2 linked regions of the Homo sapiens genome follow. The protein of the gene in region 2 interacts with the protein of the main gene of each other region in a pairwise test. Each region holds a gene or a part of one and is shown on either strand. Other genes may lie near its edges.

Evidence for each region. The genes of interacting proteins can lie anywhere in the genome.
Region 1: the proteins of STK36 (region 2) and ULK4 interact in a two-hybrid assay, tested with the Homo sapiens proteins (one study listed by IntAct).

What each region holds. Positions count from the first base shown.
Region 1 is NC_000003.12:41,959,089-41,966,113, forward strand, and holds the start of ULK4 (serine/threonine-protein kinase ULK4), read right to left. Parts: upstream 3,016-7,025; 5' UTR 2,928-3,015; intron 1-2,927. UniProt on the Homo sapiens protein: May be involved in the remodeling of cytoskeletal components, such as alpha-tubulin, and in this way regulates neurite branching and elongation, as well as cell motility.
Region 2 is NC_000002.12:218,681,895-218,689,104, forward strand, and holds part of STK36 (serine/threonine-protein kinase 36), read left to right. Parts: intron 1-3,190; coding exon 3,191-3,334; intron 3,335-6,802; coding exon 6,803-6,982; intron 6,983-7,210.

The sequences.
Region 1 (7,025 bases), on a different chromosome or scaffold from region 2:
TGCAGTGGCTTACGCCTGTAATCCCAGCACTTTGGGGGGCCGAGGAGGGTGGATCACCTGAGGTCAGGAGATCAAGACCATCCTGGCTAACACAGTGAAACCCCATCTCTACTAAAAATACAAAAAATTAGCCAGGCATGGTGGCACGCGCCTGTAGTCCCACCTACTCGGGAGGCTGAGGCAGAGAATTGCTTGGACCCGGGAGGCGGAGGCTGCAGTGAGCCAAGATCGCGCCACTGCACTCCAGCCTGAGGAACAGAACAAGATTCCATCTCAAAAAAAAAAAAAATTAGCCAGGCATGGTGGCGGGCGCCTGTAATCCCAGCTATTCCGGAGGCTGAAGCAAGAGAATGGCTTGAACCCAGGAGGCACAGGTTGCAGTGAGCCGATTGCGCCACTGCACTCCAGCCTGGGTGACAAGAGACTCCATATCAAAAAAAATAATAATAATTAATTAATTAAAAACAAAAAGGCACTGGTTAGTATCTTTCTTTTAATGACGGTTTCCCTAAGTCCTTTTTACATCCCTCTTCGTTCTAAAACCCATTCATTAAAAAGAACCAATCCTGGCCTAGCACAGTGCCTCATGTCTGTAATCCCAACGCTTTCGGAGGTGGAGGCAGGATTGTCTGAAGCCAAGAGTTCAAGACCAGCCTGGGCAACATGGTGAGATCCCGACTCTACACAAATAAAATAGCCTGGCATGGTGGTGCATGCCTGTAGTCCCAGCTATATGGTATGTATTATAACCAAAATAAGATTAAACTGACAGTATGTTAAGATGGGAAGTTACTAAGCCAGAAAAAATATAATCAGAAACCTTAAGTGTTCACAAATTGTCTACATTAGGATATCTCAGGATAAGATGATAAAATAAGTTTTCATACAGTATGTATAACTGATTTCTTGAAAATAAGGTTTTAGGCTACAAGGGAAAAAATTAAGTAAAATCTTGATTTTTTTTTTTTTTAAAGGAGGCTAGGTCTTGAACCCCTGGGCTCAAGCAATCCTCCTGCCTCAGCCTCCCAAAATTCTGGAATTACAGGTGCAAGCCACCATCCAGCCCATCTTGAAATTTTGAATTTGATTTAGGCCAAATTCATTTCCTTAATCTTTAGTCACATCTGACCATCAAGTCACATGTGGACAATTTCAGTCTGAAATTAACAAAACACATTAGTTATAAATCTGCTTAGATAGGGTGGTTTGTTACTTTCAAGCATTTCTCCTCTCTAAGGCTGTTTCCTTAGAGTAAAATAAGAATTGGATCAAATGATTTTCTTTTTTTTTTTTGGACAGGGTCTCACTCAGTGGCCCAGGCTGGTGTGCAGGGGCAAGATCTAGGCTCACTGCAACCTCCACCTCCAGGGTTCAAACGATTCTCGTGCCTCAGCCTCCAGAGTAGCCACCTCAGCCTCTGGCACACCACCACACCCAGTTAATTTTTTGTGTTTTTGGTAGATATGGAGTTTCACTATGTTGCCCAGGCTGGTCTAGAACTCCTGGCCTCAAGTGATCCGCCTGCCTCGGCCTTCCAAAGTGCTAGGATTACAGGTGTGAGCCACCGCGCCTGGCACTAAGTTATCTTTCAATAACTTATTAATAGTTGAAATTCCATGACTTTAAGATTCTTTGACTCAGTCCAAACACGTTCCCCATTACAGACTTCCTAATATTCATTTTTAAAGCTGTAACCTCTTAATTATAAAATAAAACACAAGTACAGAAAACTCCACAGAATACATAGTTTAATGAATTACTAAAGAGGGACACCCTTCTAATCACCACCCAAAGTCAGGAAATAGGACTTTGCCAGCCACACAAGCAGCCCCTCTGTGAGCCTGTCTCAATCACCACCCCTCCTGATCCCCAAAAGTTAACCACCCCCTGACTTTCGTAGTCATCACTTCCTTAGGTTTCTTCATGGTTTTCTCACTCGAGTGTGCTTTCCCAGAAACCACAGTTTAGTCTCTTAACCTATAGTGCTCCTAAGGAAGTCTCTCTTAATTCACAAGTTCACCTAAGAAGCATCTAAGAAGCCAGAAGGCAGAGCAAATCACATACAGGTGCAAATGAGGCATTTAAGAGTCGGGGGCAGGTCCTACATTCAAGGAACGCTGAGAGCGAACAGGTGATAAGAGCGCACAGGTGCCCACTTTCAGCACAATCATGACTCCCGCACCAGAAGCATGAGCATCACCTGGGACTTAATACAAAAGAAAAAGTTATCGGCCCTGCCCCAAATTTACGGAATCATACACTACGGCGGTAGGGCCTGGCCTTCTGTGTTACTACACGCCCTGGGGTGACTGGGATGCGCTCAAGTCTGCGAAATGCCAGCCAAATCAACCCCGAGATGTAACCGATGGCGCGCGCCACACTAAGCACTCCATAGGTGCTCCTCCTCGCCGCACTTCACAGACTCAATTATCACAGACTCAGGGGCGCTACGTAGTCACTCACCCCCCCCCCCCCCCCCCCCGCTCCCCAGGCAACTCGCGGCGGGCGAATCGGCGGCTTTCGCGGCCTCGCTACGTCCGTAGGCATCAGTCCGCGAGACCGGCTGGGAGCCTAGGAAGCGCTGCAGGGCGGTGAAGACGCGGTCCGCTCTGGGAAGTTAAGAGATGGCGTCCATAAAGCACATCTCCCAAGCCGAAACACACAAGCACTCTCTCTCCCCGCTGCACCCAGGTCCTAGAAGAGGCGTCCCGTGTGCCCTTAACTAACGCCCGGATAAAAACGGGCGGCTTTTTTAACACGAGCGCAAAGCAGGGGAGCGCAGGGGGTACGGGGTCCACTGGCAGAAGGAGAGAGGGCGGCCAGGCGCCACCACCCACCCGCCCCGGCAGGCCTGCGCGCTCTTCCGCGACCGCTTAGGCAGACACGAACTCAGACTCGTAGCTACTAAAACCGCCACTGCCACGCACCTGGTAGCTAAGTCAAGAAAAGAGTCCAGTCCACTTGGCTGCTCCCGCGGTTGCGCGCATCTCGGCCTCTGCCTCAGGACAGGTCCACAGGCCCAAGAATGGGGGAGAAAGCAGTGAAGCAAAGCGGAACGCGCGGAAGAAGCCGACCAGCCTTACGGAGGCGACGCCCCTCCAGGTTTGGATTCGTCCATACGGTTTCCACGGCAGCACACAGAACGCCGGAAGAAGCTCAGGAAGCCGACTGGCTGTGCAGTTTCCGTTCCTGTTGGCTGGGGCCCGGAAGTGAGAGACCACGAGGGCCCCTCCCTCCACCCAAAGGGCATCACGCCCTGCCTTTGGACGAGCCCACAGGCCAGAGACTGGGGCGGGAAGTGCTGGAGTAACAGTCATAGTGGTCGGCCCACCATCCCTCTATGTTTGGATTTGCTCATTCCATCTCCATGGCAGCACGCAGAACGCTGGAAAAACGCAAAGCGCTGATTGGTTAAGAGTCTCAGTTCCTATTGGCCAGAGTCCGAAGTGGGAGCCCGTGAGGGACTACTCTTCAATCTTAAGTGGGTGCTGAGGCTAGAGTGTGGAGAACTGAGACCTCGTCATTTCTTCTCTTCCCGTTCCCACTGTCCTTCTGTTTCCTTCCATTCTTTTCTTTCTGGCTTCTTCTGGGAGCTCAGGTAGACATGGTGGCATAGTCTGGATAACCAACGCCTCAGAAGCAGGGGCCCCGGGGTCCTCACCATTTAGAAAAGAGAAGGCTGTGAATTACCTTCCTTTTTGGAGATGGAGGAAACAGATGAGACACTCTGATCTCAAGTTGATTGTGTAAACTAAAAATAAAAGTTCCAAGCCCCCCTACCAACTGAGTGGATCCCTCCTCTGGGCCAAAGGCACGCCAAAGTTAACCTGAAGAACTAGCTCAGGCAATGATGGGAAGATGGGGTGGGACAGGCCTCATTATACCCTCCTCCCGTTGGAATACAGGCACAGCTGACCAGCGTTAACATTAAACAGAGACCTTAAGACTGACAAAACAGACTTTTTTGCAGCAATAAGATACCAACATGGCAGCAGGCCCCAAAAGACATTGAAGTATTTTATCCTGATATATATATACACACACATAGACAAACACACACACACATATACTCTTATGTATACATATATACTCATATACGTATATATATATATATTTTTTTTGAGACAGTCTCGCTGCATCACACAGACTAGAGGGCAGTGGCGCAATCTCGGCTCACTGCAACCTCCACCTCCTGGGTTCAAGTGATTCTCCTGCCTCAGCCTCCCAAGTAGCTGGGATTACAGGCGTGTGCCACCACACCAGCTAATTTTTGTATTTTTAGTAGAGACAGGGTTTCACTGTGTTGGCCAAGCTCATCTTGAACTCCTGACCTCAGGTGATCCACCCGCCTTGGCCTCCCAAAGTGCTGGGATTACAGGTGTGAGCCACCGTGCCTGGCCAAATATATTTATTTGACATATTTTGAAATGGCCTTGCAGAGCTATCTCTTCTGGGGGGAATCTACATTCTGTAAAGAATCCCCTTGTCTTTCCAGGTCTTTTCCCTGATGCTGGAGAGAATTAACTGAGAACCTGACACCTGTTTTAAGTCTGATAAGAAACATTTACAATCTATTCTCTCTGAAACCTGCTACATAGAGGCTTCATCTGCAGAACAAGAACCCTGGTCTCTGCAACCTCTTATCTCAACCCAGACACTGCCTTCTATTGGCTCCAGGTCTTTATATAATAACTCTTTTAACCAATTGCCAATTGTAGGGTATATGGATGTGCTTTGGTCAAGGAATAGGCCAAGGTGGACATCCGGGCCAGAGTGGCTCAGCGAGTTTAGGACACAGGCGCATATTCCACTTGTTATGTAACCCGTTTATGTAAGTTCATACTTGGATCTGAGCCACTATTGTCTGTAGAAGGTATAACTGCCCTGCTGACACTGTGCCCAGGTCTGAGTTCAGCACGACACGACCCGGTTCGTGCACTGGTGCCCAGAGTAATGCTACTAACCCCTCTAAGGGAGAGCGGTTGCCCTTAAGGTGGGCAGAGGGGAGCCGAGCCAGGAACCAGCTTGTGCCCAGAGGGAGAGTTAAGCTGCTGACCCTGACAGAGCTGGCTTTGCAGGCCAGGGTGTGCAGCTGCAGGCATGGGGGCAACAGGAGCCACAGAGCCAGAACAGACAGCCGAGATAAAGGTGGACAGTGTGAGAGAGCTAGTGTGATTAAGCTGCTGATGACACAGCCGCTGAATAAAACTACATTTCACTTGCCTACACGCCCCCAACCCTCCTTGTGTTCTTTCAGTTATTCGCCCATCCACCCACTCCCCTTGGACCTCAGCTGGGGGCTGGAACCTGACAATTGGCGTAGTCGTGGCATAACACCAATCACCTATTAAATCCACCCTATGATGTAGAAGCTCTTTCCAGCTTCGAGTTGTCCCACCTTTCCTGACCCAACCAATACCTTATGTCATGTATTGATTGATGTCTTATTTCTCCGTAAAACATGTAAAACCGAGCTGCAGCTCAGTCACCTTAGCTGTCAGGCCTCTGAGCCTAAGCTAAGCCATCATATCCCCTGTGACCTGCACGTATACATCCAGATGGCATGAAGCAACTGAAGATCCACAAAAGATGTGAAAATAGCCTTAACTGATGACATTCCACCATTGTGATTTGTTTCTGCCCCACCCTACCTGATCAATTTACTTTGTAATCTCCCCCACCCTTAAGAAGGTTCTTTGTAATTCTCCCCACCCTTGAAAATGTACTTTGTGAGATCCATCCTCTGCCCGCAAAACATTGTTCCTGACTCCACCGCCTATCCCAAAACCTATAAGAACTGACGATAATCCCACCACCCGCTGCTGACTCTCTTTTCAAACTCAGCCCACCTGCACCCAGGTGAAATAAACAGCCTTGTTGCTCACACGAAGCCTGTTTGGTGGTCTCTTCACACGGACACGTGAGACATTAGCCATATGTTCCTAGGGCCTCTTGAGACTGTGCCTCGAGCCATGGTCACTCAGATTTGGCTCAGAATAAATCTCTTTAAATATTTTACAGAGTTTAACTCTTTTTGTCAACCATCACTTACGGCTTTCAAAGCTCCACACTTGCAAGTTTCAACCACCAGATACACTGGAGCCTGTACTCCAGCCCGAGCAACAGCGCAAAATCCTGTCTGTAAAAAGGAAATTTAAAAAGAAATTTTATTTTTTGCTAACTTTACATGCATTGTTATTATTTAATGCCTCTTTGTATGAAGTAAAAAATAAATTTCTTTTCTGCAGCATTTAATGCAATGCTTTGCCTAAAGAAGGAAGTTTCTATGTGCTTGAATGAGAGATTCTTTTTTTTTGGAGACAGAGTTTAGCTCTTGTTGCGCAGGCTAGAGTGCTAACCTAGCTACACTCTAGAGACAGGGGTTTCTCCATGTTAGTCAGGCTGGTCTTGAACTCCCGACCTCAGGTGATCTGCCCGCCTCGGCCTCCCAAAGTGCTGAGATTACAGGTGTGAGCCACCGCGCCCGGCTGACAGATTCTTTATGATCATCCAGAGGTGAGAAAATGAACCAGCTCCCCTCTTCAGCATCCTTCAATGCAAAAGTGGTTTGCAAACTTTACCATCAGAATCACCTGGAGCTCTTGTTAAAACATAGATTTCTGGCTCCACCTACAAAACTTCTGATTCTGTATCTCAATGGGGCCTAAAATTTTGCATTTCTATCAACTTACCAGGTGATGTCAATGTTGCAAGTTGAGCACCACACTTTTCAAACAACCATCTAGAAAAACTGTTCTGATCTCAGGTAAATCACATCTCCTTTTACTTCTGACCCTTCCTGCCTTCTCAAGAGTCTCAGCATCCATTATTGTCAGTTCTGTGTATTTAACAGGTTTGGTAGGGAAAACGTCTCCTCCTGGACTACTGTCAAATTAATGAAGATTAAAACTTTGAAATATTTTGTTTATTCTGAGTTTTTATAAATAACCTAAAAGTTCATGTCAGAAGCAATATCAGATCCTGGGTCTTCTTAGCCTAAGTTCCTTGGATGCTTCTGTCAGAGA
Region 2 (7,210 bases):
AGAACATTCAAACCATAGCAACACTTTTTATTTATTTTTTTTATTTTTTTGAGATGGAGTTTTGCTCTTGTTGCCCAGGCTGGAGTGCAACGGCACGATCTTGGCTCACTGCAACCTCTGCCTCCTGGGTTCAAGCGATTCTCCTGCCTCAGCCTCCCAAGTAGCTGGAATTACAGGCATGTGCCATCATGCCCAGCTAATTTTGTATTTTGAGTAGAGATGGGGTTTCACCATGTTGGCTAGGCTGGTCTCAAACTCCTGACCTTAGGTGATCTGCCTGCCTCGGCCTCCCAAAGTGCTGGGATTACAAGCTGGAGCCACCACACCCAGCCTATAACAACACTTTTACCCCAAATTCATCAGTTGTAAAACTTTTGTCTCATTTGCTTTACCATCCTCTCTCTCTCTCTCCCCCTATGGACATAGCATCTTTCTGAATCATTTTAGGGTAAGTTGTACACATGCCCCTTTACCCCTAAATACTTTAGCGCATATTTCCTAAAACAAGATCCTTCACTTACACTAACACAGTACAATTATGAAAGTCAGAAATTTAACATTGATATAATACTGTTATAATAGATTAATTAAACTAATCTGTAATCCTTATTCAAATTTTGCTAATTGCTTCAGTAATGTGCGTTATGAAAATTTTTTTTCTGCTCCATGATCCAATCCAGTATCACACCTTGCTTTATTTATTTATTTATTTATTTATTGAGCAGGGTCTTACTCTGTTGCCAGGGTGGAGTGCAATGATGTGATCTCGGCTCACTGTAACCTCCGACTCCTGAGCTCAAGCAATCCTCCTGCCTCAGCCTTCTGAGTAGCTGGGACTACAGGCACCTGCCACCATGCCTGGCTAATTTTTGTGTTTTTTTAGAGAGAAGGTTTCGCCATCTTGTCCAGGTTGGTCTTGAACTCCTGGACTCAAGTGGTCTGCCCGCGTCAGCCTCACAAAGTGCTGGGATTACAGTGAGCCACTGTGCCCAGCCCACACATTGCATTTAGTTGTTATGCCTCCTTAGTCTCCTTTAATCTGGAACAGTTCTTGTCTTTCTTTGTATTTTATGACTGATAGTTTTGAGGTACACGTCAGTTATTTTGTAGAATGTTCCTCAAATTGATTATTTCCTAATGAATAGATTCAGGTTGTATATATTTTTGGTAGGAATACTACATAAGTGATACATCCTCAGTACCTTAATCTTTTTATTTATTTATTTGAGACAGTGTCTTATTCTATCACCTGGACAACAGGGTGGACTATAGTGGTGCAATCATGGCTCACTGCAGCCTTGAACTCATGGGGTAAGCAATTCTTTCATCTCAGCCTCCTGAGTAGCTGAGACTACAGGTGTATGGCACCATGCCCAGCTATTTTTTTTTTTTTTTTTTAAGATGGAGTCTTGCTCTGTTGCCTGGGCTGGAGTGCAGTGGCACGATCTTGGCTCACTGCAACCGCCGCCTCCCAGGTTCAAGCGATTATCCTGCCTCAGCCTTCTGAGTAGCTGGGGTTACAGGTGCCTGTCACCATGCCCAGCTAATTTTTGTATTTTTAGTAGAGACAGGGTTTCACCATGTTGTTCAGGCTGGTCTCGAACTCCTGACCTTGTGATCTGCCCGCCTCGGCCTCTTGAAGTGCTGGGATTACAGGCATGAGCCACTGCACCAGGCCTATTTTTATTTATTTATTTATTATTATTATACTTTAAGTTTTAGGGTACATGTGCACAATGTGCAGGTTAGTTACATATGTATACATGTGCCATGCTGGTGCGCAGCACCCACTAACTCGTCATCTAGCATTAGGTATATCTCCCAGTGCTATCCCTCCCCCTTCCCCCACCCCACAACAGTCCCCAGAGTGTGATGTTCCCCTTCCTGTGTCCATGTGTTCTCATTGTTCAATTCCCACCTATGAGTGAGAATATGTGGTGTTTGGTTTTTTGTTCTTGTGATAGTTTACTGAGAATGATGATTTCCAATTTCATCCACGTCCCTACAAAGGACATGAACTCATCATTTTTTATGGCTGCATAGTATTCCATGGTGTATATGTGCCACTTTTTTTTTTTTTTTTTTAAAGAGACAGAGCCTTACTATATTGCCCAGGCTGGTCTTGAGCTCCTGGCCTCAAGCAGTCCTCCTACCTCGACCTCCCAAAATGCTGGGATTACAGGTATGAGCTAATGTGCCCAGCCTCACGATCTTTTTTTTTTTTTTTTTTTTTTGAGACAGAGTTTCACTCTTGTTGCCCAGGCTGGAGTGCAATGGCACGATCTCAGCTCACCGCCACCTCCACCTCCTGGATTCAAGCGATTATCCTGCCTCTGCCTCCCGAGTAGCTGGGATTACAGGCATCTGCCACCACACCCGGCTAATTTTGTATTTTTAGTAGAGATGGGTGGGGTTTCTCCATGTTGGTCAGGCTGGTCTTGAACTCCCGACCTCAGGTGATCTGCCTGCCTCAGCCTCCCAAAGTGCTGGGATTATAGGCGTGAGCTACTGCGCCTGGCCTTTTTTTTTTTTTTTTTTTTTTTTGAGACAGAGTCTCACTCTGTCACCCAGGCTGGAGTGCAGTGGTGACATCTCGGCTCACTGCAAACTCTGTCTCCCGGGTTCAAACAATTCTCCTGTGTCAGCCTCCTGAGTAGCTGGGATTACAGGCATGTGCCACCACACCCAGCTAATTTTTGTATTTTCATAGAGAGGGGGGTTTCACCACATTGGCCAGGCTGGTCTTGAACTCCTGAGCTCAGGTGATCTGCCAGCCTCGGCCTCCCAAAGTGGTGGGATTACAGGTGTGAGCCACGCACCCGGCATTCACAATCTTTTTAATAACCTCATCGTATTTTCTAATATGGATGGACCCTGGTTTATTATTCCCTTAGTGACTGACTTTATGATCTTTTCCTTTTTAAAATTATTACAAACCATGCTGCAGCGGACGTCTTTCTAGGTATCTCTTTATGCACACATGCCGGTGTTCTCCAAGAGACTCTTCCAGACCCCTCACAGACTGCCAGCTGTACCTTTTTTAGCAGGTGACTGAAGATATACATCTGTGCTAAAGGGGTCACTGGCTCCTTGCAGTTACTTCATGATTCCCCATGGTTTCTACTGGTTGGGATCTACTACCTTAGACTTACACACTACTCCTGACCCCTTTCACTCCCCTCTGCCTCAGGAGCCAGACAGTGACAATGAGTGGCAGCACCTGCTAGAGACCACTGAGCCTGTGCCTATTCAACTGAAGGCTCCTCTCACCTTGCTGTGTAATCCTGACTTCTGCCAGCGCATCCAGAGTCAGCTGCATGAAGCTGGAGGGCAGGTAATGGGGAGAAAGACACTGTGGATGGGATCAAGACTGTTTTCACAGATGGAGCATTGAAATACACTGACTTCAGGAGAAAGAGAAAGTTTGTCCTTTTCCAGTTCTTCAGTCTATCTGCTTAGTTTGAGGAGGTTTACCAACCTCCTTTAGTAACACAGAAAGAGCAGCCCTCAGGTTTCTTTTTCTGAAGGGAAAAATGCCTACTAGAATAGGGATCAAACTTTTTTGATGATAAATATTTTAGGCATTGTGAGCCACCAGGCAAAAATGGAGGATATTATGTTAAGTACTTACATAATGAGGGAAAACACATTTTCACTAATTTTTTATTGATGAAATTAAAAATATAAATGTAACAATTAAATATACAATATTTTGTACTACAGGTACACTAGTGAGAAGAATGAGGTTATTTTGCGGGGGAGAGGAATGACATTTTGCTTAATTAGCATTCAAAGTTAGTGTAAAGTTAGTGTTCCCTCCTACAAAACCTTACTTTGCTCCTCTGAAACACAGTGCTTTTCCTTCCTGGGTACTCGCCAAACTGTGTTGCTTATATCACTTTATTCAGGTATAATTTATGTATAAGATTTACACTTTTTTGATGAATGATAAATGATTTTTAGTAAATTTGCTAATTTAAAAACTGTTAACCATAGTTCAGTTTTAGAACATTTTCATCACCCCAGTAAAATCCCTCATACCCATTTACGGTTTTTTTTTTGAGACGGAATCTCACTCTGTCACCCAGGCTGGAGTGTAGTGGTGTGATCTCGGCTCACTGCAACCTCTGCCCCGCGCAGGTTTAAGCAATTCTCTGCCTCAGCCTCTGGAGTGACTGGGATTACAGGCTCGTGCCACCACGCCCGGTTAATTTTTTTGTATTTTTAGTAGAGATGGTGTTTCACCATCTTAGCCAGGCTGGTCTTGAACTCCTGACCTTGTGATCCGCCCGCCTCAGCCTCCCAAAGTGCTGGGATTACAGGCGTGAACCACCGTGCCCAGCCTTTTTAAAATTTATTTATTTATTTATTTTTAATTTTTGAGATGGGGTCTCACTCTGTCATCTAGGCTGGAGTGTTGTAGCACAATCTTGGGTCACTGCAGCCTCTGCCTCCCTGGTTCAAGGGATTCTCATGTCTCAGCATCTCAAGTAGCTTGGATTACAGGCGTGCACCACCATGCTTAGCTAATTTTTTGTATTTTTTGTAGAGATAGGGTTTTACCATGTTGCCCAGGCTGGTCTGGAACTCCTGGGCTCAAGTGGGCTCAAGTAATCCTCCCACCTTGGCCTCCCAAAGTGCTAGGATTATAGGTATGAGCTACTGCCCCCAGCCCCCATTTACAGTTAATCATTATTCCCCTTTTTATAGCTGGTTAGTATTCCGTTATATGGATATATCACATTTTGTTTATCCACTCACTAGTTGATTAGATATTGATGTATTGGGTTGTTTCCACTTTTTAGCTTTTATGAATAATGCTGCTATGAACATTCACAAGCAAGTCTATGTATGGATAAATGTTTTTATTTCCCTTGGGTAACTACGTAGGAGTAGAATTGCTGGTCATATGGTAAATTTATATTTAACATTTTAAGAAACTGCTGAACTATTTTCCAAAGTGGCTGTACCATTTTACATTCCCACCAGTATTATATGAGGGTCCTTGTTTCTTCACATCCTTGTCAACACTTGTTATTGTCTAACTTTTTTACTATAGCCATTCTAGTAAGTGTGAGATAGTATCTCATTGTTATTTTAATTTACATTCCACTAATGATGAATGTTGAACATCTTTTCATGGCTTATTCACCATTTGTATATCTTCTTTGGTGAAATATCTCAAATCTTCTGCTCAGTTTTTAATTTGGTTGTTTGCGTTATTGAGTTGTAAGACTTCTTTGTATATTGTCAACATAAGACCTTTATCAGATGGGTGATTTGCAAATATTTTCTCCCAGTCTGTGGTTTGTCTTTTCATTCTTTCTCATAAGAGTGTCTTTTGAAGCAAAAAATGTTGAATTTTGATTTAAGTTCAGTTACTGTTTTTTCCCTTTGTGGTTCATACTTTTGATGTTGTGTATAAGAAATCTTTTCCAAATGCAAGGTCTTAAAGATTTTCTCTTTTCCTAAGTTTTATAGTTTTAGCTCTTACATGTAGGTTTCTGATCCATCTTGAGCTAATTTTTGTATATAATGTGAGGAAAGGATCTAAGTTGATCGTTTTTGCATGTGGATATATAATTGTCCTGGCACCATTTGTGGAAAAGAACTCTCCTTTCCTCATTGAATTGGCTTGGCACTTTGCACTTGTCTTTTGGCGCTAACACGTTTTCCTCCTAGTGTTGGATAACTTGCAGTGTGGGGAGGCAGACTGAAAGCTCTGCCTTTAGGGATAAGACTCCCTCTGGTGGAATTCCAGCTGCACTACTCATTAGCTGCGTGATCTTGGACTACTTACTTGACTTATGCAGAAGCTTCAGTTTCTTCATCTATAAAATGGCTAATTCTATTTATTTCACAGGGTTATTGTAAATATTAAATGAGCAGATGCCAACATTTAGAACAGCTAATGGAATATTATAAAATACTTGGTGTAAATGTTCTTCTTTTGAAGAATAACCATTTAAAAATACAATACTGGCCAGGCATGGTGGCTCACGCCTGTAATCCTAGCACTTTGGGAGGCTGAGGTGGGAGGATCACTTGAGGTCAGGAGTTTGAGGCCAGCCTGGCCAACATGGTGAAATCCCATCTCTACTAAAAATACAAAAATTAGCTAGGTGTGGTGGTGGGCACCTGTAATCCCAGCTACTTGGGAGGCTGAGGCAGGAGAATCACTTGAACCCAGGAGGCAGAGAGGTTGCAGTGAGCCAAGATTGCACCATTACACTCCAGCCTGGAGGACAAGAGTGAAACTCTGTCTCGAAAAATAAATAAAGGGCAAAAATAAATAAAAATATAATACTATCCTTAGCATGCAGGCTGTATACAAATAAATGTTAGGCTGGATTTGACCTGTGAGCCATAGTTTGTCAACCCTGATCTAGAGTTGAATAATGTTGTTTTGTCTTTCTGTGGTTAAATAATATTGTTTTATATGCATTGTTTTGAATTTTCAGAAGCATGTGCGGTGCACGTGTTTTTTGTTTTTAAGGTGAAGGGCTGGAGAAGGGAGGGAGCAGATGGGAATGGCACTTAGTCTGACAGAGATCCTGAGGAGAGGCCCCTATCCGTTGGTCACTGGTGTTCTGTGTTAGGTAACCTGACCATCTATTGTCTTCTTCCCTGGTACAGTTCCCCTATTTCCCTGCTTTCCTTCTCTGTGTTTTAGACTTGCAAAGAAAGGAATGCAAGCATGTGGTCTGCTTTCCCAGCTCCTTGGGGATGCTTGGTATGTGTAGTTCTCCTTCTTTTACCTCTGAAAATATCAATCGTTGCCTCTTTCCCTCATGTCACCCAGATCCTGAAAGGCATCTTGGAGGGTGCTTCCCACATCCTGCCTGCATTCCGGGTCCTGAGCAGTCTTCTCTCCAGCTGCAGTGATTCTGTTGCCTTGTATTCCTTCTGCCGGGAGGCAGGGCTTCCTGGGCTGCTGCTGAGTCTACTCAGGCACAGTCAGGAGAGCAACAGCCTCCAGCAGGTAAGCACCAGGCCAGAAGCCTCTGAAGACTTACAGAGGTTCTTTTTCTTGGATTTATCTCATTCAGATTGCCATCTCTCTTTGGTCTGACTGCCTTTTATTTTCTTTCCTCCTCTTTCTAGTTAGTAGACTATTAATTGCAAACTCTAATGCCTTCTGGGGCCAGGCAGATAAGGTCTGCCATGAAGTAGGCTATGCATGTGACTATATGAGTTGTGGGGAATATGA